7 linked regions of the Homo sapiens genome follow. The protein of the gene in region 3 purifies or fractionates together with the protein of the main gene of each other region. This does not show direct contact. Each region holds a gene or a part of one and is shown on either strand. Other genes may lie near its edges.

Evidence for each region.
Region 1: the proteins of TMPRSS2 (region 3) and SCARB2 purify together in Homo sapiens (affinity purification with mass spectrometry, with the first as the bait; one large-scale study listed by BioGRID). This does not show direct contact.
Region 2: the proteins of TMPRSS2 (region 3) and LANCL1 purify together in Homo sapiens (affinity purification with mass spectrometry, with the first as the bait; one large-scale study listed by BioGRID). This does not show direct contact.
Region 4: the proteins of TMPRSS2 (region 3) and YTHDF2 purify together in Homo sapiens (affinity purification with mass spectrometry, with the first as the bait; one large-scale study listed by BioGRID). This does not show direct contact.
Region 5: the proteins of TMPRSS2 (region 3) and ITGAV purify together in Homo sapiens (affinity purification with mass spectrometry, with the first as the bait; one large-scale study listed by BioGRID). This does not show direct contact.
Region 6: the proteins of TMPRSS2 (region 3) and ECE1 purify together in Homo sapiens (affinity purification with mass spectrometry, with the first as the bait; one large-scale study listed by BioGRID). This does not show direct contact.
Region 7: the proteins of TMPRSS2 (region 3) and P4HA1 purify together in Homo sapiens (affinity purification with mass spectrometry, with the first as the bait; one large-scale study listed by BioGRID). This does not show direct contact.

The regions. Positions count from the first base shown.
Region 1 is NC_000004.12:76,206,866-76,211,012, reverse strand, and holds part of SCARB2 (lysosome membrane protein 2), read left to right. Parts: intron 1-4,147.
Region 2 is NC_000002.12:210,469,724-210,473,870, forward strand, and holds part of LANCL1 (glutathione S-transferase LANCL1), read right to left. Parts: intron 2,354-4,147; coding exon 2,236-2,353; intron 611-2,235; exon of another isoform or gene 1-610. UniProt on the Homo sapiens protein: Functions as a glutathione transferase. Catalyzes conjugation of the glutathione (GSH) to artificial substrates 1-chloro-2,4-dinitrobenzene (CDNB) and p-nitrophenyl acetate.
Region 3 is NC_000021.9:41,463,535-41,467,358, reverse strand, and holds the end of TMPRSS2 (transmembrane protease serine 2), read left to right. Parts: intron 1-1,205; coding exon 1,206-1,217; coding exon of another isoform or gene 1,218-1,239; 3' UTR 1,240-3,054; downstream 3,055-3,824. UniProt on the Homo sapiens protein: Plasma membrane-anchored serine protease that cleaves at arginine residues. Participates in proteolytic cascades of relevance for the normal physiologic function of the prostate.
Region 4 is NC_000001.11:28,760,657-28,764,803, forward strand, and holds part of YTHDF2 (YTH domain-containing family protein 2), read left to right. Parts: intron 1-4,147. UniProt on the Homo sapiens protein: Specifically recognizes and binds N6-methyladenosine (m6A)-containing RNAs, and regulates their stability. M6A is a modification present at internal sites of mRNAs and some non-coding RNAs and plays a role in mRNA stability and processing.
Region 5 is NC_000002.12:186,634,604-186,638,750, forward strand, and holds part of ITGAV (integrin alpha-V isoform 1 preproprotein), read left to right. Parts: intron 1-1,478; coding exon 1,479-1,604; intron 1,605-2,461; coding exon 2,462-2,506; intron 2,507-3,673; coding exon 3,674-3,717; intron 3,718-3,805; coding exon 3,806-3,862; intron 3,863-4,147.
Region 6 is NC_000001.11:21,255,317-21,259,463, reverse strand, and holds part of ECE1 (endothelin-converting enzyme 1), read left to right. Parts: intron 1-624; coding exon 625-771; intron 772-1,873; coding exon 1,874-1,939; intron 1,940-3,325; coding exon 3,326-3,517; intron 3,518-4,147. UniProt on the Homo sapiens protein: Converts big endothelin-1 to endothelin-1.
Region 7 is NC_000010.11:73,068,991-73,073,137, reverse strand, and holds part of P4HA1 (prolyl 4-hydroxylase subunit alpha-1 isoform 2 precursor), read left to right. Parts: intron 1-957; coding exon 958-1,109; intron 1,110-4,147. UniProt on the Homo sapiens protein: Catalyzes the post-translational formation of 4-hydroxyproline in -Xaa-Pro-Gly- sequences in collagens and other proteins.

The sequences.
Region 1 (4,147 bases), on a different chromosome or scaffold from region 3:
ATTCATTCATAACTTGATTCTAATGTAGTTATAATATAATCTACTCTGATATTTCCAGTTCTTTGTTTTTTCATTTGAAGATTGTCTATGCCCCGACTTGTCTATGTCAAAAAGGGAAGAGGGAAAAGGGATGAAATTCAAATGAGTAGGTGTGGGAAGCTTAGTAAGAGAATTCCTATCCAAAAAGTTGTCTCAAATGATAATTGTCCTTGAACCCTGCAGTGACCAGAGGTAACTGAAGAGAGACTTTTAATTTTGGCCAGTGAATATCGTGGAAGGAACCAAGACAATTTTGTTTCATTTTTGGCCTCAGTGGTGACTGCCTCGTATTGGGCAAGGCCTGTAATTGTTTCTGCTTCAATTTTCTCATTTGCAAGAGAGGCATAATAGTACTTCTCTTTTTCCCACACCCTCTTCCTAGGGGATATTGTGAGCATTAATAAGGCATTTCCTTACAAGCGTTTGGGCCTTCATGAAGAGAGAGCTTTGCAGAGACCCAGCAGTTCCTTTTCCTCCCTTAGGCCTGGAAAGGCAGGAGTTTACGTTACATTTCATCTGGTATCCCAGTGAACTGCCTTGACACCTAGCACAGTGCCTGAGATACATATTAAATGCCTCTTCACTCGCCTGTGATCATTTTAATAGAAAGAAGAGTGTCCTGAGAATCAGCAGAACTGAATCAAACATTTTTTTTCTGTCCCTAAGGATTTCTTGGACTAAGCTGAACAAGCACAGTGGCAAGTTATTTAATCCCTCAAATCCTAAGGATCCTCATTTTGAAAATAGGAACAATAAGGATAAGAATACTTAACTCAGAGTTGTCACAAGAATGAAATAATATGATATCTATAAAGCACCCAGCACAATGCCTCGCACAATGCCTGAACGTTAACAGTTGTTATGTCTTTAGCTATATTTGTCATCTGTGAATTGAAACTTATTATACAAGCTATGGTTCCTCTTAGCTCCAAACTTCTGAGATCCCATGACCTTTAAGAGCAGCTATGCAGTTCAGAATATTAAGTTTGCGCTCCTAATCTCTGCAGACGTGCTGGCAGGTTGACTGTCTCCCAGTAATAGGGATGCAGAACTGGCCACAGTCAGGGCTGGCCAACAAGGGATGGGATGGCAAGGGAACCAGTGGGAGACTGTTTACACCTTTGACTTCCTCTTCACAGGTCAAGGCAGGACTGTAGCATTAGGTCTCAGAGATGCAATGAACAGGACAAATACACTTCCCCTTCATCTGGACCTGAGGCTCTGGGCAAGTCAGTACCAGCTGGTTTCTTTTGGGAGCCATAGAAACTCTGGAGCTGTTCTACCGATTCCTCAAGAAGTAAAATATAGGCCAGGCGTGGTGGCTCACGCCTGTTATCCTAACACTTTGGGAGGCTGAATCGGGTGGATCACAAGGTCGGGAGTTCGAGACCAGCCTGGCCAATATGGTGAAACCCTGTCTCTACTAAAAATACAGAAATTAGCTAGGCATGGTGGCAGGTGCCTGTAGTCCCAGCTACTCGGGAGGCTGAGGCAGGAGAATCGCTTGAATCCGGGAGGCGGAGGTTGCAGTGAGCCAAGATGGCTCCCTTGAACTCCAGCCTGGGCGACAGAGCAAGACTCTGTCTCAAAAAAAATAAAAATAAAAATAAAAAAAGAAGTAAAATGTAATCACTGATAACCAGATTGCTTTGATTGGTGACTATGGGATCTTGTTTTTTAAAGTCAAATCAGCAAAACATCTTTATTGATGTGTATGTAAAGGCATTCAGCTATATATCATTTTAAAAGGCTCCTTCTTGCATATCTACCTCATCTCCTGAGTTGCCTCTATTCAAAGAAGACTTATCTTAGTCTGAGATTTTTCTTGATCAGAAAAAAACCTGTAAAGATATCTTAAATCTGTTATCTTACGGTCAAGGAAATTGAGGCTCTTGGAATAGAAGTGACTTATCTAAAGTCAAATGGAGAGGGAAGGAGAGAGCGTGCCAGCTAGCCTTCTGATCCTGAACCCACTTTTCCCATCTCAAGGATGACCATACATCCCATTTGCCTGGAATAGTCCTACATGGTTTCTGTGTACCTGTTGTGCTGGTGTAATCACTAACACCCCCTTTCCTCCAAAAGATTTCTGCTTTGGACAATAAATTCTATGGCCATCCCTCACCTCTCATGCTACATTGTCCTTACAGACCACAATGTATCCCGCTTCTTGGCTCTCTTAAGGAGTTGAGGCCTACTCAAACTAGCTCTGGCAAGAGAGGATTCTTTTTTTTGTTTCTGTAAATCTGGAAGGGGAAGCTCATAGAAATCAAAGGGCAAGAACCACGGCACAGTAAGGCCTCCTGAGAGGACAACCGAAAGTGGAAAGTCAGCAGGAAGCAGGCACACTCTGCCTCCCACTTTTTCCTCTGCTTTCTCCACCAACAGGCTTCCTCTGTTTACTCAGCCTGGCTCTGTACTCATCCGGGCTTGCTCAGCCCCGCCTCAGTGTGACTTTCCAGCTGTTGACCTCTCATAGACATGCTTCATCTCCTAGTTTCTCTTTTCCAAGTTTATAACGGAGCAATGTGATTGGCTCAGCACAGGAAGAAACTATAGCACTGTAAACGGAGGCAGTGTCGTTAATTTCCTTGCAAGATTCTCTAACTCCTAAGCAAAATTATCCAAATTCTTTCCTGGCTTTTAGAAACACGATCTTGTGATATCAAAATCATATTAAGTTTATTTTAGTGTCTTACTAATTCATGTTGACTATGAGTGCATTCCTTATTAATGATTAAGACAATATAGTAGGCTAACAGTTGTCAGCATAGCCCCTAGACTCTAGGAGATGCATCTAAATCACTTACAAAGATTTAGAAAATACCAGACCCCATCCCAGACTTGCTGAATCAGACTCATTAGGAACAGAACTCAGGTTAAAGTGCTTATCATAAAATCCATTACTGGAGGCAGGTTGCTGTGGGATCGTAATCTGCAATTTTGGGAATATGCATTTTTAAAAAAGGTGTTTATATTTGTATAGTGATTATTTTAGACCATGTCTTCATTCCTTAAGATGGTAATTCTGACTGAGGAGATTACTACTTATAATTACTATTAATCTGCAAGTTTACATTAAAGGAAATATTATTTGGTGAGGAGGGGAAGATTCCTGCCTGTGGAAACTACTTTGCTTTATTGTTAAATAAATCCAAGATTTCATTCTGTCAGGCCACAGCAGAGGGGCCATCTGTTCTGCCAGACATTTGCTTATTTCCCAGGAAGAATCAGGAGGTGGAATTATAAGCTCATTGATGAAAACATAGGATGTTGGCCAAGTTACTAGACATTCCTGGCCATATCATCAAGATATGCACTATCTATACACTATACACTAAGGAAGGGACCATTTTTAATCCAAGCTGGTAACTGGAAAAAACAACCAAGGAAAAATAAAGACCACTTTAGGTGTTTGCTTTCTATATCTAAATGCACTTTTGGGTACATGCTTTGGCAGTCATTCTTTCATTTGACAAATATTTACTGAGTGTGTACCATTTGCAAGGCAGTGTGCTAAGAGCTATGGATATAACACTAAACAAGAGGCAGTCTCTACCCTTGCAGATTTTATAATCCAATTTAAACTCCTGGGCCCCTCATATTCTTAAAAATTATTGAGGACCCCAAAGAACTTATGTTTCCATACCTATTGATAGTTACAATATTAGAAATTGAAACTGATATGTATTTTTGAGAAATGTTTAAAACAGAAGACTACACAAGCACATATTCCAATATGACATCATTATATATCACGTAACCTCTGGAAGACTCCACTCTACACTCAGAGAAATAATAGAATTAAAAACGCAAATGATACCTTAGTATTAAAATAGTTTTGACCTTGTGGGCGCCTCCTAAGAAGGTCTTCGGGCTCCCCAGGGGTCCTGAGATCACACTTTGAGAACTGTTGATCTAGTTTTCATTTAATTATTTTTTTAGAATATTTTTAAAAATACATAATATCCCTGTTTTATATTCCTGTAAGGCCAGTTTGGAAGCTATCTTGTTAATGTTTTCAAACAACCAGGATTTTGCTTGGTGTGTCTTTGATTTACTGTGTCCTTTTGGCTTTCCTGTGAGTCCAGTGTTAAAAATAGGAGTT
Region 2 (4,147 bases), on a different chromosome or scaffold from region 3:
TTGGAGTGAAATGTCTTTGCTATTTCCAAAGTTTTTAACTTTTGGGTTCTCAACTAGCCCTAGCAATATAAGGGCCTGACTAATGACTCTTCCCAACATTGTCAAACTTAATTCAAACTTGAAATCAATCCCCTTTTTTTTCCTCCTAAAGCAAAGTAACTCACAATAATAATATGAGTACATGTGAATGGCCAATTTAGAAGTTTAAGTCATTCTTTTGTAATCAGTACTAGAATTAACTAGTGATTTTTTTTTTTGGCAAGGAATAACAAAATAATAGAAACTCCATATATATTAGAAAAAGATCTGTAAGTTTGAGCCTTATATATTATTACAATGTGGCAATCAAGAGGAAAACTCAAGACAACTGTGCGCTGTGCTTGTCCTGTTTTGTTCAAACCACGATAATTTTAAATAAATAGTAATGTTCAACATTCACTGATGACATTATCTATCAACCACATCACACCTGGAACACAGTAGATAATAAATGGCAGCTGTTATACCTTCCTTCTTGAAACAAAATCCTGTCATTTCATTCTCATTTTAACTTTGTGTTAAGCTTCTACAATCCATAAAAATGATAAAACAATAAAATGGTCCAACATTATCTAGTCCAGTCTTATTTTTACAAAACATTGACTTTAAAAGTCCCTGAGATTTTAATTTTACTGGTTTAATCTGTCTTCCCTACCCTTGTTTAAAAAAAAATAGAATCATGTGTCATTATTGGTTGAGTACCCGTTATCTGAAATCCTTGGGACAAGTGTTTTGGATTTCAAATATTGAAATATTTGGCTTATATTTACCAGTTGAGTATCCCAAATCTGAACATCGGTAATCCTAAATGCTCGATGAACATTCCCTTTGAGTGTCACATCAGAGCTTAAAAAGCTTCAAATTTTGGAGCATTTTGGATTTCAGATTTTCAGATTTGGGATGCTCAACCTGTACTAAAGAGGAAGACTAATAAGAGATTGCTATTATTAATAAATTTCTCTCAGAAAGCTTTCAAACTGCAGTCTGTAGATCACCATCTGCATCAGGACCACTGATGGCTATAAAAGGCAAATTCCTGGGTTCTGCTCAAGATCTACTGAATCACAATCTCTGCTATGAGGCCATTTTTATGACAAATTCCACTCCTTAAAATCAAATTAAAATTCCCTGGATTGCAAGCTTATTCCTCCTTGCCCACTCTTTAAAGCGAATGGGAAACACTGAGTCTCTAGACTATGCTTTCTTCCAGATTACACAGCTGTCTTTTGTTTCTCTACATTTGGTAAATTAATTGCAGTTCTTCAACTTTTCTTCTTTGATTTTTTTTTTTTTTTTTTTTTTTGAGATGGAGTCTTGCTCCATCACCAGGCTGGAGTGCAGTGGAGTGATCTCATCTCACTGCAATCTCCACCTCCCAGGTTCAAGTGATTCTCCTGCCTCAGCCTCCTGAGTAGCTGGGACTACAGGTATGAGCCACCATGCCCAGCTAATTTTTGTAGTTTTAGTAAAGATGGGGTTGCACAGTGTTGGCCAGGATGGTCTTGATCTCTTGACCTCGTGATCCACCCGCCTCGGCCTCCCAAAGTGCTGGGATTACAGGTGTGAGCCACTGCGCCCAGCCTCTTCTTTGATTTTTCTCTTTCTCACCTTTTTTTGACATCAATGCACTGTTTCTTCCTAAACCTCCTCCAGCCTCTCAATGATTGAGATTGGCAATGCAGCAATTGCAAACCAAACAGCAATGACCATATGGGAGGATTAGTTCATGGAAGTAATACTTTACCCTGTATGGATTCCTGTATGGATTCCTGTTACGGGTTAACTTTTTAAAACATGCTTCTGGACATATTTTATTCCTGAGATCAATCCTCATTACCTCCGCTTCAGGCATTGTATTTTGGAACTCTTCCCAATTCTTCCCACTGAAATTACATCTGCAAATTAACTATGTAATATTGAAAATCAATTTTTCTCCTCACAAGTATAGCAGCCATCCAAATGTCAGGCATGAATTACATGAATATGCTTACCATGCCCTAAATTCAGGGCACTATTAAAAACCCAGAAGATACCATGGTTGGTTGGGTTGAGGGCACAGCACTCTCCCAGAAGCAATTACTCATATGCAGATGCAGGAAGCATTTAAGGGTGTACCATTCAGACAGACAGCTCTCGGAAAAATGCTCTGGCTCTTAAGCACAATGCTTATGCCAGCTCACAGTCAGCACTTCATACCTGCCCAGCCAGTGTAACCGGTGCCATCCCGAGGGTCTGCTGATTTCAGGCCTCTCTCCATTTGCTGAAGAAGCTCCCGAATCTTATTGGTCAAGCGTTGTGAGAACTCAGGAGTCAGCTAGATATTAAAGGAAAACAAGTATCAAAATAATGTGGGTCACCCAGCTTGCTGGACTATAAGCTATCAAAGACAGAAAGGTATTTCTTTTCCACTTAGGACATATTTTTCCACCTGGAAGACTAAACAATTTATTTTCTATTCTTAAACAACAACATCACATTAACAAAATTTATAAAATACCGTTGTAACTTATACATGTTTTAAATAAAATTTTTAGTTAAATACTAAAACAGACTGCCAATGATAAACTGGCTCACAGTAATTTTCCACCTAATAGTAATCGTCTATTATTTAAACCAATATTATAATAAAGTCTTTTTATTAAATTAAGCACAAATCAGATGTTTGGTGCTTTCAAACTACTGGATTTTTAGTATTCAAGCTGCAGCAAGGTAAATTCCCTAAAGAAACATCTAATTGCTCTTATTTAAAAAAAAGGATTTAAAAAAAATGAAGTAGCCAAAGAAAAGCAAAACAAATTCATGTATATCAAGAGCCTTAAGCAGAATAGAAAGAATATCAAACTTAGCATCATAAACCCACGTCCAGCACAGTGTCTGGCAGAGAATACGGGCTTCACAAATGTTTCTCAATGAATGAGCCTGTCTACATCCTTACCCGCTATTAGCTGATCTTGCTCAACTCATAACTTCTTTATGTTTCAAATACCTCCATAAAGTCAGGATAATAATAACTGCCACGCCAATTTCAAAAGGTACTTTGGGGATTAAATGAGATAGTGTATCACAAGTCTTTCTCATTCAGGGATGTAAATGTTGACATTTTTACTAATTCTTTAGCAGATCAAGGGTCTAAGGCAAGTAATAGTTTAGATATGGATTGAAAATACACTAAGGCTGGGGCTGTGGGGTTAGTACCACCCATATGAAGGTCCACAGATGCTGTGCAAACAGTGAGGCTCACACAATCATTACGTTATTCTTCTTAAAGGCAAATGAAAAATAATTTTAAACTTCTGCACACACTGAATCAGTGTCTTAAAAAGTCACTGAAGGCCGGGCACAGTGGCTAATGCCTGTAATCCTAGCATTTTGGGAGGCCGAGGTGGGCGGATAACCTGAGGTTAGGAGTTCGAGACCAGTCTGACCAACATGGAGAAACCCCATCTCTACTAAAAATACAAAATTAGTCGGGCATGGTGGTGAACGCCTGTAATCCCAGCTATTCGGAAGCCTGAGGCAGGAGAATTCCTTGAACCTGGGAGATGGAGGTTGTGGTGAGCCGAGATCGTGCCACTGCACTCCAGCCTGGGCAACAAGAGCGAAACTCCATCTCAAACAACAACAACAACAACAACAAAAACCCAAAAAACTCACTTTATTGTCTCCCTCAATAATTTTAAGAACTTGCTGTGATTCTAAGACTTGAATTTCACATAGTAATTAAAATTTCAGAACAATGTGGGGGAAAGTTACAAGGGTATAAACATTTTATTTTACCATGTAAGGATTGTAGAAATAAACCTAACCACTCACATCAGAATCTCATTTTTAAAAATGAGATAAAATCTTAACACTGAAAACAGCAAGAAGGCAGTATCAGAATTAACAACAACAACAATAGTTTAAGGATACGTTAAGATTCACTTCGGAGGAGCATCCTTGATAAGGCAAATCAGACTTTCAACCACATCTGGATTATTTAATCTAAAGCACCACTATGATCCCTTATTTCACTCTTTAGAAGAAACGACGTTGTTTGACAGACACACTCCCATTATTTAACAATTTCTGCAAAGAGGTTAAGATTTCAACTAGACTTGAAAATACA
Region 3 (3,824 bases):
GGAGTGCAGTGGCACAATCTCGACTCACTGCAACCTTTGCCTCCTGGGTTCAAGTGATTCTCCTGCCTCAGCCTCCCAAGTAGCTGGGACTACAGGCATGCGCCACCACGCCCAGCTACTTTTTGTATTTTTAGTAGAGATGGGGTTTCTCCATGTTGGCCAGGCTGGTCTCGAAGCCCTGACCTCAGGTGATTCACCCACCTCAGCCTCCCACAGTGCTGGGATTACAAGTGTGAACCACGGTGCCCGGCCTCACATGAAACTTTTGATTTATAGAGAGCAGAGGGAAGAGCCGGCTGTGCCCATCCTTTTCTGGGGCCATCGAGTGGCTCCTGGGCAGCCCCCAAGGTTAGGAAGGGCAGGAGCAGCCAGGGTTCTCTGATGCCCCAGACTCAAGCACGAGGGAAGGTCTCAGGGGTTCCATGTGAGCCTCATGGATGTCTCTGCTTAGCAGAGCCCTGGCTTTGGGCATTGTCCAGATAGGGGGTGAGAACCAGATCTTCTCATCTCCAGGACCTCAGACGTATAGTTTTCTCAGATTTCTGTGCTTTCTGGGGCTGGGCTACTAGTGGAAGAAAGCAGTCTATTCTGTCTTCTCCCAAATCTCCCAGATGCCCAGTCTGTTGAAGGAGGAGCAGAACCAGGGGGCCTTTCCCGCTGAGGCCCGACCTGTGTCTCCTTCAAATGACACGCGGGACTCAGGGCCTTCCCATGACCATGGGGCCCAGGGGGCGTCACCTGGCCCAGGGCCCAGTGCTAGAAACAGATGACCCCAGGAGGAGGAGGCAGGGCAGGAGGGAAGCTGGCAGGGCTGGGATGGTCAGCCAGGCTGAGGGGCGGACTCGCACCAGGATGGAGCTAGGAAATGATCCAGGTGTGTTTGGCGGCTGCAGGTGGGTCCGCATGGCTGTGCAGGGAGGGAAGGGCTGCGTGGCAGGAGAGCAGCCGGGGGAGGCCCAGACTCTGCTGAAGAGATGCCTGTTGTGCCGGCCTCCACATCCGCTGCCCGCTCCTTCCGGAGCTCCTGCCCCGCCATGCTCAGCCTGACTCTGACCAACACGTTGGAGAGAAGAATGATCCCTTTGTGCTATTAAGCTTGCTTATTTGGTTTCTAAGTGCTTCATGCGAACCTAGAGGAAAAAATTATTTTCCACCTTTGTTTGTCTTAAGAAAATAACACACTTTTTTTTTTCCTATTTGAACAGGCAGACGGCTAATCCACATGGTCTTCGTCCTTGACGTCGTTTTACAAGAAAACAATGGGGCTGGTTTTGCTTCCCCGTGCATGATTTACTCTTAGAGATGATTCAGAGGTCACTTCATTTTTATTAAACAGTGAACTTGTCTGGCTTTGGCACTCTCTGCCATTCTGTGCAGGCTGCAGTGGCTCCCCTGCCCAGCCTGCTCTCCCTAACCCCTTGTCCGCAAGGGGTGATGGCCGGCTGGTTGTGGGCACTGGCGGTCAAGTGTGGAGGAGAGGGGTGGAGGCTGCCCCATTGAGATCTTCCTGCTGAGTCCTTTCCAGGGGCCAATTTTGGATGAGCATGGAGCTGTCACCTCTCAGCTGCTGGATGACTTGAGATGAAAAAGGAGAGACATGGAAAGGGAGACAGCCAGGTGGCACCTGCAGCGGCTGCCCTCTGGGGCCACTTGGTAGTGTCCCCAGCCTACCTCTCCACAAGGGGATTTTGCTGATGGGTTCTTAGAGCCTTAGCAGCCCTGGATGGTGGCCAGAAATAAAGGGACCAGCCCTTCATGGGTGGTGACGTGGTAGTCACTTGTAAGGGGAACAGAAACATTTTTGTTCTTATGGGGTGAGAATATAGACAGTGCCCTTGGTGCGAGGGAAGCAATTGAAAAGGAACTTGCCCTGAGCACTCCTGGTGCAGGTCTCCACCTGCACATTGGGTGGGGCTCCTGGGAGGGAGACTCAGCCTTCCTCCTCATCCTCCCTGACCCTGCTCCTAGCACCCTGGAGAGTGCACATGCCCCTTGGTCCTGGCAGGGCGCCAAGTCTGGCACCATGTTGGCCTCTTCAGGCCTGCTAGTCACTGGAAATTGAGGTCCATGGGGGAAATCAAGGATGCTCAGTTTAAGGTACACTGTTTCCATGTTATGTTTCTACACATTGCTACCTCAGTGCTCCTGGAAACTTAGCTTTTGATGTCTCCAAGTAGTCCACCTTCATTTAACTCTTTGAAACTGTATCATCTTTGCCAAGTAAGAGTGGTGGCCTATTTCAGCTGCTTTGACAAAATGACTGGCTCCTGACTTAACGTTCTATAAATGAATGTGCTGAAGCAAAGTGCCCATGGTGGCGGCGAAGAAGAGAAAGATGTGTTTTGTTTTGGACTCTCTGTGGTCCCTTCCAATGCTGTGGGTTTCCAACCAGGGGAAGGGTCCCTTTTGCATTGCCAAGTGCCATAACCATGAGCACTACTCTACCATGGTTCTGCCTCCTGGCCAAGCAGGCTGGTTTGCAAGAATGAAATGAATGATTCTACAGCTAGGACTTAACCTTGAAATGGAAAGTCATGCAATCCCATTTGCAGGATCTGTCTGTGCACATGCCTCTGTAGAGAGCAGCATTCCCAGGGACCTTGGAAACAGTTGGCACTGTAAGGTGCTTGCTCCCCAAGACACATCCTAAAAGGTGTTGTAATGGTGAAAACGTCTTCCTTCTTTATTGCCCCTTCTTATTTATGTGAACAACTGTTTGTCTTTTTTTGTATCTTTTTTAAACTGTAAAGTTCAATTGTGAAAATGAATATCATGCAAATAAATTATGCAATTTTTTTTTCAAAGTAACTACTGCATCTTTGAAGTTCTGCCTGGTGAGTAGGACCAGCCTCCATTTCCTTATAAGGGGGTGATGTTGAGGCTGCTGGTCAGAGGACCAAAGGTGAGGCAAGGCCAGACTTGGTGCTCCTGTGGTTGGTGCCCTCAGTTCCTGCAGCCTGTCCTGTTGGAGAGGTCCCTCAAATGACTCCTTCTTATTATTCTATTAGTCTGTTTCCATGCTCCTAATAAAGACATACCCAAGACTGCAATTTACAAAAGAAAGAAGTTTATTGGATTTACAATTCCACATGGCTGGGGAGGCCTCACAATCATGGCAGAAAGCAAGGAAGAGCAAATCACATCTTACATGGATGGCAGCAGGCAGGGAGAGAGTTTGTGCACAGAAACTCCCATTTTTTAAACCATCAGATCTTGTGAGACCCATTCACTATCACAAAAACAGCACAGGAAAGACCCACCCCCATGATTCAATTATCTCCTATCAGGTCCCTCCCACAACACATGGGAATTATGGGAGCTACAAGATGAGATTTGGGTGGGGACACAGAGCCAAACCATATCATTCTGCCCCTGCACCCCCCAAATCTCGTATCTTTACATTTCAAAACCAATCAGGTCTTCCCAACAGTCCCCCAAAATCTTAACTCATTTCAGCATTAAGTCAAAAGTCTACAGTCCAAAGTCTCATCCAACACAAGGCAAGTTGCTTCCACCTATGAGCCTGTGAAATCAAGAGCAAGTTAATTACTTCCTAGATACAACGGGGGTACAGGCATTGGGTGAATACAGCCATTCCAAATGGGAGAAATTGGCCAAAATAAAGGGGCTGCAGGCCCCTTAAAAGTCCAAAATCCAGCAGGGCAGTCAAATCTTAAAGCACCAAAATGACCTCCTTTGACTCCATCTGTCATATCCAGGTCACACTGATGCAAGAGGTGGGTTCCCATGGTCTGGGGCAGCTCCACCTCTGTGACTTCGCAAGGTATAGCTTCCTTCCTGGCTGCATCATGGGCTGGTGTTGA
Region 4 (4,147 bases), on a different chromosome or scaffold from region 3:
TGCAGCCTCCACCTCCCAGGTTCAAACGATTCTCCTCCCTCAGCCTCCCAAGTAGCTGGGACTACAGCCGCGTGCCACTACACCCAGCTGATTTTGTATTTATGGTAGAGACAGGGTTTCACCATGTTGGCCATGCTGGTCTCAAACTCCTGATCTCAGGTGATCCGCCTGCCTCTGCCTCCCAAAGTGCTGGAATTACAGGTGTGAACCACTGCGCCTGGCCGAATTTGTTATTAAGTATTATTTATTATACATAATTTTACGTGCTATAGTTTTATACGACTTGCAGTGCGGTAGGTTTGTTTACACCGCATTACCACAAACAAGTGAGTAATGTTTTGTGCTACATCCTTACAGTGGCTTCGACATCGCTAGGTGATAGGAATTTGTCAGCTCCATTATAATCTTACTGATCTGTCATTGACTGAAATGTCATTATATCGTGCATGAGTGTGTGTGTGTGTGTGTGTGTGTATTTTTTTTTTTTTTTTTTTTTGAGAGAAGGCCTCACTTTGTCACCCAGGCTGGAGTGTAGTGGCCTGATCACAACTCATTGCAGCTTTGACCTCCTGGGCTTAAGCATACTTTTTCTTGCAGCCTTCTAAGTAGCTGGGACCACACAGGTGTTCGCCACTATGCCTGGCTAATTAAAAAAACTTTTTGGAGAGATAAGGTTTCACTGTGTTGCCCAGGCTGTTCTTGAATTCCTGGGCTTAAGTGATCCTCCTCCTTTGGCCTCTCAAATTGTTAGGATTCCAGGTGTGAGCCACCATGCCTGGCCTAATGTTTAAAAATTTCTGGCTGGTGCGGTGGCCCATGCCTGTAATCCCAGCACATAACGGAGGCCAAGGCAGGTGGATCACCTGAGGTTGGGAGTTCGAGACCATCCTGACCAACATGGAGAAACCCCGTCTCTACTAAAAATACAAAATTAGCTGGGCATGGTGGCGCACGCATGTAATCCCAGCTACTCAGGAGGCTGAGGCAGAAGAATCGCTTGAACCCGGGAAGTGGAGGTTGCGGTGAGCCGAGATTGCGCCATTGCATTCCAGGCAACAAGAGCGAAACTCTGTCTCAAATTCTAGTAGAGTCAGGTTCTCAGTATGTTGCCCAGGCTGGTCTCAAACTGCTGGTCCCAGCCTCCCAAAGTGCTGGGCTTGTAGGCAGGAGGTACCATGGCCAAAATAGATATTTTTAATAAAATATTATAGCCTTGCTTTAAATTGGAGAACTGATGAAAAATACTTTGTCTCTTTATCTGGGGGAAGTTAGCATCTTAATTATATATGACTTGATGTTTCATATATATATGACTTGAAGTCTAAAGTCAAGTCATTAGACTTATTTAACTTATTCACGGCATTGGAGACTATAAAGGTTGATTCTATTAAACCATATCAAGCAATGGAAGTAATTTTTGTGTCATCACATCACTTTTAAAAACACATTTTCCTAGCCGGGCGTGGTGGCTCACGCTTGTAATCCCAGCACTTTGGGAGGCTGAGGCGGGCGGATCACGAGGTCAGGAGATCGAGACCATCCTGGCTAACACGGTGAAACCCCGTCTCTACTAAAAATACAAAAAATTAGCCGGGCATGGTGGCGGGCACCTGTAGTCCCAGCTACTCGGGAGGCTGAGGCAGGAGAATGGCATGAACCCGGGAGGTGGAGCTTGCAGTGAGTGGAGATTGTGCCACGGCACTCCAGTCTGGGCAACAGAGCGAGACTCTGTCTCAAAGAATTTTAGAATGAGACTCCGTCTCAAAGAATGACTCCCGTCTAAGCATTTTATATTGTCAGCTGGGGTGCTGAACTTTGGGTTTCTTTCAAGGTTCATGGGGGCATAGGAAAAACTAGTTGAGAGCTATATAGATTTAATTTTGTGGGAGAGATAAACATTTACCAGATTTTAATGTTAATAAAATTATATCCAGGTGAATATGAATATGCCTCAGTTGTGTTTTATGGCCCACTTGAAAGTGAAGGGAGAGGGAGGGATAGAACAGTGCAGTAGTAAGTAGAAAGGTTATTAAGCTTAAATAGAGGGAAGCTAAATAGGCAGATTTACTGTTTTTGAATATTATATGAAGAGATTGCATATGTGCAGACTTTAACATTGCCACCTTATGGCTTTTTGTATATTTCCTCCAGAGACTGAATTTTCTATTTTATTTTATTTTATTTTTAATTTTTATTTTTGAGACAGAATCTAGCTCTGTTGGCTAGGCTGGAGTGCAGTGGCGCGATCTTGGCTCACCCGGGTTCAAGTGATTGATTCTCCTGCCTCAGCCTCCTGAATAGCTGGGACTACAGGCATGTGCCACCACGCTTGGCTAATTTTTGTATTTTTAGTAGAGATGGGGTTTCACAATGTTGGCCAGCCCTGTCTTGAGCTACTGACCTCAAGTGATCCACCTGCCTCGGCCTCCCAAAGTGCTGGCATTACAGGCATGAGCCACTGCACCCAGCCGAGTTTTCTATTTTGTAATCATAGATTTAAAGTGAGGAGGGCCTAAGGTGGATGGGTGGATAGAGATGTCGACATTATTTCTAGTTATTTAAGCCACAGACCAGATCTGTCTGGACTTGTAGTTTCCTAATTTATTCATAGTTAATATCTTTAATGTTTTTATTTGAGACAGAGTTTTGCTCTTTTGCCCAGGCTGGAGTGAAGTGGCGTGACCTTGGCTCGCTGCAACCTCTGCCCCCTGGGTTCAAACAATTCTCCTGCCTCAGCCTCCTGAGTAGCTGGGATTATAGGTGCCTGACACCAGGGCTGGCTAGTTTTTTATTTATTTTTAATTTTTATTTTTTATTGAGATGGAATCTCCCTCTGTTGCTCAGGCTGGAGTGCAGTGGTGCGATCTCAGCTCAGTGCAACCTCCACCACCCAGGTTCAAGCGATTCTCCTGCCTTAGCCTCCTGAATAGCTGGGACTACAGGTGTGTGCCACCATGCCCAACTAATTTTTTGTATTTTTAGCAGAGATGGGGTTTCACCATGTTAGCCAGGATGGTCTCGATCTCCTGACCTGGTGATCCGCCCACCTCAGCCTCCCAAAGTGCTGGGATCACAGGCGTAAGCCACTGTGCCCAGCCAATTTTTTTTTTTTTTGGGATTATGGGCGTGAGCCACTGAGCCTGGCCGACAATTTATAATTGTATATATTTATGGGGTACAAAGTAATCTTAATTTTTTCAAAGAACCAACTTTTGTTTTTTTTTTTCCTATTATATATACTTTAACTCATGCCAGCTCATATCTTTATTATTATTATTATTTTTTAAATTTATTTATTTTATTTTTTTTTGAGACGGGGTTTCTCTCTTGTTGCCAAGGCTGGAGTGCAGTGGTGTGATCTCGGCTCACTGCAACCTCCATCTCCCAGGTTCAAGCGATTTTCCTGCCTCAGCCTTCCTAGTAGCTGGGATTACAGGCATGTGCCACCACGCCCAGCTAATTTTGTATTTTTAGTAAGAGACGGGGGTTTCTCCATGTTGGTCAGGCTGGTCTCGAACTCCCGACCTCAGGTGATCCGCCCACCTCGGCCTCCCAAAGTGCTGGGATTACAGGCATGAGCCACTGTGCCCGGCCCAATTTTTTATTTTTATTTATTTTTATTTTTATTTTTTTGAGACGGAGTTTTGCTCTGTCACCCAGGCTGGAGTACAGTGGCGCGATCTCAGCTCACTGCATCCCCTGCCTCCTGGATTTAAGCAGTTCTCTGCCTCAGCCTCCCAAATGGCTGGGATTACAGGCGCCCACCACCACGCCCGGCTAATTTTTTTTTTGTTTTTTTTAGTAGTGGGGGTTTCACCATCTTGCCCAGGCTGATCTTGAACTCCTGACCTCGTGATCCACCCACCTCGGCCTCTCAAAGTGCTGGGATTACAGGCGTGAGCCATCGTGCCCGGCCCCAATTTTTTATTTTTAGTAGAGATGGGGTTTTGCCATGTTGGCCATGCTGGTCTTGAACTCCTGACCTCGTGATCCACCCACCTCGGCCTCCCAAAGTGCTGGGATTACAGGCGTGGGCCATCGTGCCTGGCCTCAATTTTTTATTTTTAGTAGAGATGGGGTTTTGCCATGTTGGCCATGCTGGTCTCGAACTCCTGACCTCAGGTGATCCCACCTTCCTCGGCCTCCT
Region 5 (4,147 bases), on a different chromosome or scaffold from region 3:
AAATAGAAAATTCAGGCATCACAGACAGGGATCAGAATGTGAGACATAGCAAAGCTGAAAAATTGGAATTTCTATGCATTATACATCTATTGGGAAATAAAATGATTTAGAAAAATTATAATTGAGTTTTACTGTTTTAAAACAAAAATAGCAGTTCTAAAGTACATATGAGAAAATAGGGGATATTAACACTTTATAGTTAGATATAGAAATATGGATTTATTTTTCTTCTTTATTGCTGATTATGTCATTCAGTGGAGGGGAAGGAAGTATCTGATGAGCATGCCTGGGAACCAAAACTGTCAAGGAAGCTAAATTTTGTGATTCTCAGTTAGGACTACTTGTTAACTCTGTCTTTTTAAGAGATACAGCTGTGAAAATGTATGACCTTTTTTTTTAATGCCATGGGTATTGCATAAATAGGAATAATAATAAATAGGAATGTGTAATAATTAGGACACAGTAATAAATTAGGACAGAGAGGTACTATTAATATTATATTTATTAGAATTTTATTACAAGTTGTCTGTAATATATAGCTAGCAGACTCAGTGAATTGGCAAATAGTATTTTGTTTTAATAAGATTAAAATCAGCAGATGTCACCCTGGATAAGTACGTTAGAATGAATTTTTTCACAGATCTCAGAATTGTCGTTGTTAGAATGGAGAAAAGAATAATGTTTTATTCAGAAGAAATAATGAATTTTCCTCTGTTCTTCAATTCAGGAAATGTTTATTGAATTTCATATGTTCTTGGTACCGCTGAAGCCCAGATGATAAAGTAGTGACCTGGACAGAGAAAGTGCTTCTGTGCTGTAGATCCAGTCTCTGTGACTGAACAGATGGGAACAGGACTGAAAATGTTAGCTGTTACACATTTCTTTCTAAAACAGCAGAAATGATAAGAGATTACTGTGTCCATATTGTGGAGACAACACTTGATAAACCAGCTATCCTTTCTTGGCATGGAGGGCAGGCTGATTTTTGTGTAGTCATCTAGATTTCTTGTCTGCTTAATAACAAGGTTGTGAACAAAGGTGAACTCATCCATTCAGGTTGTTTCCTAAAGATGTTTAAATTACTAGTTAAAAAATATCAATTGAACCAATTATTCTGATTATAAAAGTAACAGTATTGTTTCAGTAAATTTTTCATGTTTTAATGGATTAGTTGGGTGATAGCCTTTGATTTTATTATTCCGTGTATTTAACATTGCTTTCTAGTGATTTAAGACAAGTCCTGTTTTCTTAAATTTTTATTAGCAGAGACTACTTTTAAGTACTGGCTTAAACAGAAATAATTTTAAGTTAAGAATATCCATTTTCAAATTGAGTATGATCAAGGAGAGTTATGTACGGCTAATAATTAGAAGTACTAATATCTAATATTGTTTTCCTTCATGCAGGTACCATACATTATCTGTATCATAAAGTTTCCATTTGAAGGTTATTTATTTTATATATACACCCTTTTTTAGGTCAGCTTATTTCGGATCAAGTGGCAGAAATCGTATCTAAATACGACCCCAATGTTTACAGCATCAAGTATAATAACCAATTAGCAACTCGGACTGCACAAGCTATTTTTGATGACAGCTATTTGGGTAGGTAAAACCAAAATTTACTCATTTTTGGAACTGTGGTACATATATCTTATATCTGAGTATGGTCTTTTAAGTAGAAAAATATTTTATGTGAAATAGATTAGGATTTTTTGAAACATACAGAATATACAATTTCAAATTGTTAATGAGTACTTTGGTTATGTTACGTTTCAGTAATTGAAATTGAAGACAGTGATTATTTGTGCAGTGATAATAATAATAGCTAGCCTTTAAGATATGCTTACTGTGTTCTGGGCATTGTTCAAGGTGACTTGGTTTGTATTCACTCATTTAATCCTCACAAGTCAAGCATACTGTATTATTCTCATTTTGTAGGTGAAAACACTGAGGCACTGAGACGCAAAATAACTTGCCCAAAGTCACTCGCTTGTAACTTGCTGTTCAGAGATTCAAATGGAGACAGTCTAACTCCTGAAGTTTTCTTCATGATGTTAAATAAAAGTTTTGGTCTTTAGGACTTATTAACATGTGTTCTCTCTTTCAATTTCTTTATGATATATTAAAACAAGTCATATATGACAGAAATAGTACTTGCTGATTGAGAGAATTTATTTGTTCTTTATGATGAGTTGTAAATTTGGTGTTTTTAACAGACTCCTTTGTAAAGTTAATAAGACAATTGTAGTTTTGTAATAAAAATAGACTATTTGAGTATTTAACTCAGTTTCATTTAAAATTCATATGTCATATATATATGAATCTGTTATGACTAGGGGACAAAATATTGCATAAGTAAAGGAGTTTCTTGAAAATATTTTCAAGGAATGCTTACTCAGCAAGCCTGCTGAAGATAACGTCCTTGTCCTGATGGTTCTCCCCTTTGGTTTCCTGTTTAGGTTATTCTGTGGCTGTCGGAGATTTCAATGGTGATGGCATAGATGGTATGAAGTACTTGAACTATATCTAATCTTTAAAAAAATTAGATTAAGTATTTGAAACATGTGGCATTGAAAATTTTAAGCAGTTTGAGTGGCTGGGTGCTGTGGCTGCAGCCTGTAATCTCAGCACTTTGGGAGGCTGAGGCGGGTGGATCCCTTGAGCCCTGGAGTTCAAGAACAGTCTGGACAACATGGCAAAACCCTGCCTCTAGAAAAAACACAAAAATTAGCCGGGCGCGGTGATGCACACCAGTGTCTAGCTTCTCAGGAGGCTGAGGTGGGAGGATCTCCAGAGCCCAGGGAGGTTGAGGCTGCTGTGAGTTGTGATTGCGCCACTGCACTCCCGCCCGGGCGACAGAGCCGAGACCCTGTCTCAAAAAAAAAAAAAAAAAAGGAAAAGAAAATAAAATTTTAAGCAATTTTAAACCATTGTTATGGAATATAACAGAAGAAATGAGGAAGATGTTAGCACACTGGTGAGAGTCCAGGCTAGGTCTGTGCTGAACTTCCTCTAGTGGCTGCTGAAATTGAGACAGCTACACTTGGCTTCAGTGCCTTTCCTTTCTGCTTCTTTTTAGCCCCCAACACTGTTAGTGATTTCCTTAGCATTTTCCTCCTTGTCTTCAGCAAATTCATTCCTCTGGGAGGAAGAATTAGTGTCTTCTTTCTTTAGGCATCCTTTGTTACCTTCTGGGCCATCTCTGTACGGTTATTACCCCATCCTCTCATTGTCCATCCATCTTCCTTCAGAGCTCCGTTTAGGAATCACAGTCTTTACCTGATTTTGATCACATTTTTGTGCCACAGCCACTTCTACCCCACTTCAGTTTGCTCTGTATTATTTTTCATTACTGTACTACTAAACTAAATGTAGTTTTTCTTCATTCTTAGGTTACTTTATCTTGTCTATTCTTGTTTAACAATATTACAAATGACTTGAGGGCTTATTTGCATATGTTTGAGAGCCCTCCAGAATTTGTATTTTGTAAATTTTGATTTTATAGTTTAAAAATGCTGGGCTATTTATTACGGAGTACCAATTTTTCTAAATTGATTGTTTGTTTTGAACTGAAGTAGTAAAACTTAAAGCTTGCTGACATAGTCACTTCTGGTCTGCAACTTCCAGTGTTGTCCTAAAAAATGAATAATTTGTTTGTTTGTTTGTTTCAGACTTTGTTTCAGGAGTTCCAAGAGCAGCAAGGACTTTGGGAATGGTAGGACAGTTAAAAGGTATTTTTTAAAAAATCTCTAAGTTATCTTCTATTTTACCAGATTTCACATACTTCTATTTTTCCTTCACAGGTTTATATTTATGATGGGAAGAACATGTCCTCCTTATACAATTTTACTGGCGAGCAGGTATGCTTCCAAAATATGATCGTCCTCTCCCACTATAAAAGCAGTATGTACTCATTGGAGAAAATTTGCGAAATAAAACTGTAAAAATGAACTATAATCTCATCAAATAGATAATTCTTCCAACTCTTACCATTTTGGTCAAACTATTATCATTTCTCTTTTGAGCGTGTGTGTGTGTGTGTGTGTGTGTGTGTGTGTGTGTGTGTAGTATATAAACAAAAATTGGTTTACTCTGTATTTTTCATTTTGTCTTGCCTTTTTCACTCAATATTTTATCATCAGAGT
Region 6 (4,147 bases), on a different chromosome or scaffold from region 3:
CAAGACCCCATCTCCAAAAAATTTAAAAATTAGCCAGGTGTGGTGATACACACCTGTAGTCATAGCTACTTAGGAGGATGAGGTGAGACAATCACCTGAGCCCAGGAGGTGGAGGCTGCAGTGAGTTGTGATGGCCCCACTGCACTTCAGCCTGGGAATCAGAGCAAGACTCCATCTCAAAAAAAATTTTTTTAAAATCCCAACTTTGAGACTAAAGTAGACCGTAATTTACCAACCTTCTTAAACATGTGGAGCCTTTTTTATCCCAGAGGCACAATTGAATTTATGTTTTGATATAATCACATTCACACAATTCATTATCCAAAATATAAACCGTGAACCGGGAAAAGTCTCTTTCCCATTCTCATCCCAGCCACCCAGGGAGCGGCTGGATTCATGCCTGGCTGCTTGGCTTGTCTAGGATAAGCCTTTGCTCCATCCATGGGTCTCCAGCTCATGGGTCGGAAACCCCCGATGAAGACCAATCCTTTCCTTTGCTCTTGAGGCTCAGAGAGGTCAGGCGACTGCTCCAGGGTCACAGAGCAAGTCAGCGGCAGAACCAGAATTCACATCTGGGTCTCCCCGCCACCTCATCACCTCCCTGCCTGCTCTCCCTCCCCACAGCTCGGGGGCTGGAACATCACAGGTCCCTGGGCCAAGGACAACTTCCAGGACACCCTGCAGGTGGTCACCGCCCACTACCGCACCTCACCCTTCTTCTCTGTCTATGTCAGTGCCGATTCCAAGAACTCCAACAGCAACGTGATCCAGGTGAGCTAGCTTGAACCTGCAGCGGTCGAGGGGGCGGGCACGACCTCTTCCTGTTTTGAGTTTAGCAGGACCTGGGGTGGGAGAGGGGCTTGCCCTGGGTGGGACGGCGGTCTTCTAGTTTCTGAGCCTGGGTTATTTCCAGAGGCCCCACTGGTGAGATCTTTGCAGGCTGCTGGCCTTGCGTAGATGGGCACTGCATACAGGTGAAACTTTGGGTGCTGATGGGTTTCCGTGGGCCCCAAGAATGATGTCAACTCCTGGGCACAGCTGAACCCACATCCTGGTTTCCCCCTCCTTAGCGTCTGCTCTTTGTAACTCTTCTTGGAATGGGTTTGAATCCATCTCTCCCTGTCAGAGCATGCCCCAGACAGAGGCTCAGCCTGCCCAGGGGAGCTCCAGCACTGGTCTGCCCCAACCTCCAATGCAGAAGTGAGAAACCCAGGCTGGGGGTCCTAAAAGCTGAGTTCCCAGCCCATCTCTACCATTCAGTCACTGTGTGACCTTGGGCAAGTGCCTCAACCTCTCAGAGCTACAGTTACCTTATAAATCAAATGGATTGCAATAACACCTGTCCTAGGTATGCCAAGATGTGGCCATGGGTGCCAATAGTAGCAAGCAGAATTTGACCCTCCCCTCCTGCTTGGCAGGCACTTGACCAGCACTGTCTTCTTGAATCCCCATTCTAGCTCTGAAGGTTAGGTTTTATTTTCCCTATTTACCTGAGAAGAAACCTGAGAATCAGAAAGGTTCAGTAACTTGGCCAAGATCACACAGCTTTTGAGTGACTCTTAACCACCTGGAAAGCGTTGGGGAGATAGAGGCACTTTGCCGAGGCAAGTAGCTGTTTAAAAAGGAGGGTGGCTCTGTCCAGCCCTTCTGAGGAGCCCAGGAGCCCTGCGGGGGGGGGCCACGTGGACAGGCAGGAATGTGTCATCCCGTCCCTGAGTGGGCTTCTCAGTGACTGTAGCCAGCAGTCCTGCTTCTCCAAGGGCCTGAGCTGGGCCTCTGCTGCCATGTGCCAGCCATTCCCAGGGCAGGAGGCCGTGCAGTGGATACACGCATTGCAACACGAATTCCCTCTCATGCCTGCTTCTCTTGCCAGGTGGACCAGTCTGGCCTGGGCTTGCCCTCGAGAGACTATTACCTGAACAAAACTGAAAACGAGAAGGTAAGCGTGCCTCTCCCCTCCCAGCCTGCCTCCCAGCACGGTCCTTCCTGCTCCGTGTCCACACCCACACCTGTGCAGGTCTTTGAAGCTAGGGGAGCCCAGGGGTGTCAGTGACCTGATGGGTGAAACAGGCAGACCCTGGCAGGGGAGGGACACCCCTAGGCTGGCTGTGTCACTCAGGCATCATGGACACAAGGGGCAAGAGACAGGTATCATTTGTCCTGGTTCTAGAGAGAGGCAGAGGCAGCAATAACAGCTACCACAATTCGCCTGGCCCTTTATACATCACCTGTGACCCTCCCATTAACCCTGCAGATACTGAACTTCATTTGCCTCATCTGTCAAACAGGAATTAGTTTTGTCTTGCCTTTTACAGAAGAGGGTATCAGGCTCAGAGATGCTAAGTGATCTGCTCAAGGTCACATAGCCAGTAAATGACGAGCCTGAGATTCACATCCGGATCCACGTGCTCCGAAGCCCATGGCTCTCCCTCCCCCTGGCCTGCCTCTTGTGATGCCTCTTGGGGCGACCTCACCTGGAACTCATTCATCTGTCCTTTCATCCTTCCGCCGGCATGTACTTGACCAAGCGCCCACAGAGTGCCTGATGCTGGGGAGATGGTAGCAGACAAGACCACCATAGCCTTCGTCCCACAGGGCCTGTGGTTTGGTCGGCGAGGCGGATATTATTTAACTAAGAGAAAGTGAAGCTGAGAAAGTCTACCGTGGAGACCTAATTCAGATCTTGGAACACGGGTGGGGGGTGGTCAGAAAAGATGCATTCTAAGAATGGAAAGACAGCCCCAGGACAAGCCCTGGAAGACAGGGACCAGCCCAGGTGGGGACCTGTGAGACGAGCCAAGACTTTGGGCTTTCTCCTGGAGGCTGTAGGGAAGCAGCAGAGAGACACGGCCCCGAGATCATTCTCAATGCTGTGTCTCCCACGGGTGTCTTCTTCTTTTTTTTTTGAGACAAAGTCTCTCTCTGCCGCCCAGGCTAGAGTGCCATGGCGCACAATCTGGGCTCACTGCAACCTCCTCCTCCTGGGTTCAAGTGATTCTCCTGCCTCAGCCTCCTGAGTAGCTGGGATTATAGGCACCTCCCACTATGCTCAGCTAATTTTTGTATTTTTAGTAGAGACGGGGTTTCGCCATGTTGGCCAGGTTGGTCTCAAACTCCTGACCTTAGGTGATCCACCCACCTCAGCCTCCCAAAGTGCCAGGATTACAGGCGTGAGCCACCACACCTGGCCCCACGGGTGTCTTGGGGGCACTGTGCAGCCCCCTGGCTCCCTGTGCCGGACTTGGCTGGCCAAGCCCCCCACCAACTCTCGTCCAGTGGATAGTGGGGGGGCAGCCACTGACAGTTTGGGGTATGGGCCCTGCAGGTGCTGACCGGATATCTGAACTACATGGTCCAGCTGGGGAAGCTGCTGGGCGGCGGGGACGAGGAGGCCATCCGGCCCCAGATGCAGCAGATCTTGGACTTTGAGACGGCACTGGCCAACATCACCATCCCACAGGAGAAGCGCCGTGATGAGGAGCTCATCTACCACAAAGTGACGGCAGCCGAGCTGCAGGTAACTTGAGCGCCGGCTGCTAGGGAGGCTGGGATGGCCTCCAGGTTTCAGACAGGGCCCTGGACTGGGGGCTTTTATACTCATTTCATCTAGTCCTTGAAACTATGTGACAAAGGAAGGATGGTTGTTATGCCCAGTCCACAGATGGAAAAACTGATGCTCAGAAAGGTCAAGTTACCTGCTGAAGGGCACACAGCTAGTAAGTGACTCCAAAATAGGCGCCTGGCCGACACCAGGCTGCTTCTCTGTAATTAATAGTGTTTACTTGGAGGCTCGGGGTCATGACCACACCAGCTTACATTGACAGCGCCTTTCCAGTCTCTCCAGCACCAAGCACATCGAACTTGGTTACAGTGAGCACTTAATAAATGCATGGTGTGGATTCTGTCATTACTTTTCCCTTTTCTGAGCCAGATCAAGGTCCGGAGGCTCCTAAGTGGCAGAGGAGCCAGCCGCAGATGGGCTCACTGTACAACAGGGCGTTAGATCTGTGATGCTCTCTGTCACCCATTGGAGAAGCCCAACGTCCAAGGGCTCAGCCTCTGCCAAAGGCTGCCCTCTGGTGGCTGCTTGGTTCTTGAGGGTCCAGAGAGAATAGCTTGCTGGTTCCTTCTTTCCAGAGCATCAGCT
Region 7 (4,147 bases), on a different chromosome or scaffold from region 3:
AGTGCAGTGGCATGATCGTGGCTCACTGCAACCTCCACCTTCCAGGTTCAAGTGATTCTCTTGCCTCAGCCTCCCAAGTAGCTGGGATTACAGGTGTGCGCCACCATGCCCGGGTAATTTTTGTATTTTTAGTAGAGACGGGGTTTTGCCATGTTGGCCAGGCTGGTCTCGAACTCCTGACCTCAGGTGATCTGCCCTCCTCAGCCTCCCAGAGTGCTGGGATTACAGGCGTGAGCCACCGCACCCAGCCTGACTGATAAATTTTAAAAGTATTGCTAATATCTTCTATCCTCTTCTAACCTCTTAGTCAAGCCACCTGCTGCAGCAATTTTCCAATTCTACTTATCCTTTACTCCCATGGTTCCATTGTAGAGATTATAGTGATGGTAGCGTTAGTGTTATTTAATTGATACAGTTTTTCTCAAATATGAATTTATTTTTAATTGACTCATGTTCATAGTTAATCCTGACCTGAGAATTCCTGTCTTTTATTTAATGAGTAGCTAAGTGTTCAGTTTTTCATTTTAAGATACAGTTTCTAGAAACTGGATGTAAAAATTTAGTATAAGTTGATTTAAATGAACATGTAATTGAATTTGGGTTGGGCTAATTTGTAGTTTGTAATAATCAGTTATTTGGCCCTGGGACCTAAGTCTAAAATTTTTAGACTTTTACTGGAGGGATTCATTCACAACTTTTACTAAGACAGGGAGGTTCCATTTACTGTAACCATTTGGGAGAAACAAAATTAAAACAAAAAGTCCTATAGTTGTATTGATTCTGCCAAGAGGATGTCGCTTTTTAAAGAGACCGAGACCGTATACTTTTACTTTAAAAAGAAACTACAGATATAGTTGAACTCAAAAACTTCTAGTCATTTTTTTTCTGAGCGTTTCATTAAATTGTGTTTTTCCCTATGAAATATAAATATTCAGTTTTTATGTTTTACATCTGTAGATGGGCAGAGAAGTTAGATCGGCTAACTAGTACAGCGACAAAAGATCCAGAAGGATTTGTTGGGCATCCAGTAAATGCATTCAAATTAATGAAACGTCTGAATACTGAGTGGAGTGAGTTGGAGAATCTGGTCCTTAAGGATATGTCAGATGGTAAGTCTGAAGAGATTCCTGAGTAAGGTAATATTGCCACCATATGTAGAAATAATAAAATTAATGATAAATTCAGTTCCCAGGAAACCAGTTCAGTTCAGTGTTGTAACTGGATTATGCCTGGGTGCATTTGGTTTGAATAGAGTTAATTTAGTCAAAATCCTGAATTCTTTGATTAAAAAAGAAGTAATTTCTTTTTTTGTTGACTTGTTTTGAAATCTGCAAAAGTGAATAGATTATTTGGCATATAGCTTCATTTCTGAGGGTAATCATTTTTATTTTAGGATTACCTTCAAACTTTAAAAATTTATGTCTTTATCTGCAATCAATTTAAAAAAATGTTGGGAGTGTTACTATAAAGAGAAGTATTAGCTGTGTTCTATCTAGTATTTTGAAGTTTAGAATTAGTTTGCTCAATGTGGACAATCAAACTGAGGCTGCAAACAGTAAAAATGAGTAAGTGATACAATACAATTTGTAGTTGGAGCATTGAAATGTTTTAGATACTTTAATAACAGATGTAGAAGACTAAATCTGGACTTTATTAAGGAGGTAAAGGGATTATGCCTCGCCCCCCGCCGCCCCTGCCCTGCCCCGCCAAGAAAAGAAGAAGAGAGAGACGGAAAAGAGCTGAGCTAGTTGTGTAGATAAAATACTCCAAGGGTACTTACCAGTGTTTGTAAGCAGTGAAGTAAACTTATTATGCACAGGGATCAGGAAGCCTTGAAAAGAAAAATATGGCAAGTACTTGTGAATACTTCTTTACTGTGAGAGGGAAATGCCTGTGATTATTTTCTGTACTGTATAACACCTTGGGAACTTTTTTTTTTTTTTTTGGAGACAGGGTCTCACTGTCTAACTGTTGCCCAGGCTGGAGTACAGTGGCACAATGGTGGCTCACTGCAGCTTTGAACTCCTGGGCTCAAGCAATCCTCCCACCTCAGCCTCCTCAGTAGCTAGCACTACAAGCATAGACCACCACGCCAGGCCAATTTAAAAATTTTTCTTTCTTAGAAACAAGGTCTTGCTATGTTGCCCAGGCTGATCTCAAATTCTTGGCCTCATGTGATCCTTCCACCTCAGCCTCCCACAGCGCTAGGGATTACACGCGTGAGCCATGGTTCCTGGCCCCTGAACCATTTTTTAAAGGAAATCGATATATTTATTCTCAAGTAATGAACTAAGTTGTTTTATAATGTGAACCTTGGCACTTTGTTGTTTTAATCTGTAGTAGTCATTCTATAATGCTATGAGAGAGTATATATATTTTAATTTTTCTTAGAATTTTGTTTGTAGCATAAGAGATATTATAGCCTTCTATAAAACTTATAAAACTTGCTTGTAAAATTCCATATAGAGATTGCAACTGAGAGTTGGTCGTAAAACTAAAAATATTGTTGGGAACAGAGCAGGTCAAAACTCCCATGATTGATCTAATAATGGAATTATACTGGTAAAAAGCCACTGCACTTCAGCCTGGGCAACATGGCAAGACTCTGTCTCTAAAAAGAGACAAAACAGCATAAAAATATGCTTGATATAAACTCTAGCCCTCTTCTAGTTATTTGTTCATTTGTACATTTTCATTTCACGCCTGTAATCCTAGTAGTTTGGGAGGCTGAGGCTGGCAGATCACTTGAGGTCAGGAGTTCGAGAGGAGCTTAGTCAACATGGTGAAAACCCGTCTCTACTAAAAATATAAAAGTTAGCCGGGCCTGGTGGTGGGCACCTTTAATCCCAGCTAGTCGGGAGGCTGAGGCAGGAGAATTGCTTGAACCGGGAGTTGGAGGTTGCCATGAGCCAAGATTGCACTGCTGCATTCCAGCCTGGGTGACAGAGCGAGACTCCATCTCAAAAAAAAAAAAAAAAAAAAAAAAAAAAAAAAAGGCCTGGTCTCTTGCTGTTCAAAATACGTAGCTGGCTGGACACAGTTGCTCATGCCTGTAATCCCAGCACTTTGGGAGACCAAGGCAGGTGGATCGTTTGAGACCAGGAGTTGGAGACCAGCCTGGGCAACACGGTGAAACCCCGTCTCTACTAGAAATACAAAAATTAGCCAGGTGTGGTGGCACATGCCTGTAATCCCAGCTACTGGGAGGCTGAGGCAAGATAATTGCTTGAACCTGGGAGGTGGAGGTTGCAGTAAGCTGAGATCATGCCACTGCCACTGCTCTCCAGCCTGGATGACAGAGTGAGACTGTCTCAAAAAAAAAAAAACAAAACAGTTGATTATAAGTTAATGAGAAGAGAGGGAAGTCTCATACCTAACTTTTATTCACAAGTAATGATACTGATATTAAAATTTTAAACCAATTTTTTATTTCTTAAGGAGTGTTTAGCATTCATTCTTCTTGGGGTTATATAGTTATCAGTAATTGGTTTGTTTGATTTTTGCATACTTTATATAAATCCTCTAAGATTAGGTTTATATATTGTAAATTTTGGTTGATCAACGTCATGTTTGATAATTAAACTGATTTAAATATATTTTAGTAAACTAGCTTTGCTGTTGATCTTAAATATATAGTTAATATCTCTTCCTTCTCCTTGAAGAATTCCACCAAACTTTATATATTTACATATTTATATAATGTGTAATACATGGAAGAAAAAAACAACTTTAAGAGCACATATTTTACTTACCATCTGTTATCTGGAAGTATAATTGATTGTCAATGAATGTCATTTCAGACCCATAAATGTGTTCATTTCTCAAACTTAGTGGATGCACTTTGTTTTCTTGCTGTGTTATATAACTAAAAACTCATAACTATTATGTTAGGTGATCTTTACCTGCTAATACAGATACAATTTATATAACAGCGTCACAGTCCTTAAGCAACACTAGGCTTTTGGAAGATTGAACAAGTTAGAAGTATGCCAAGTCTTATTCAGTGTATTTAATTTTTTCTTGTTGAGTATGTAGAACTTTTCATGGTGTGGTAGAAAATAATAAAATAGATTTTGAACAATCCTTATTAAGTCTCTTTATGGGAAGTTTATGAGGTTCTACAGTTTTTTTTTCTTTGATTTATCTA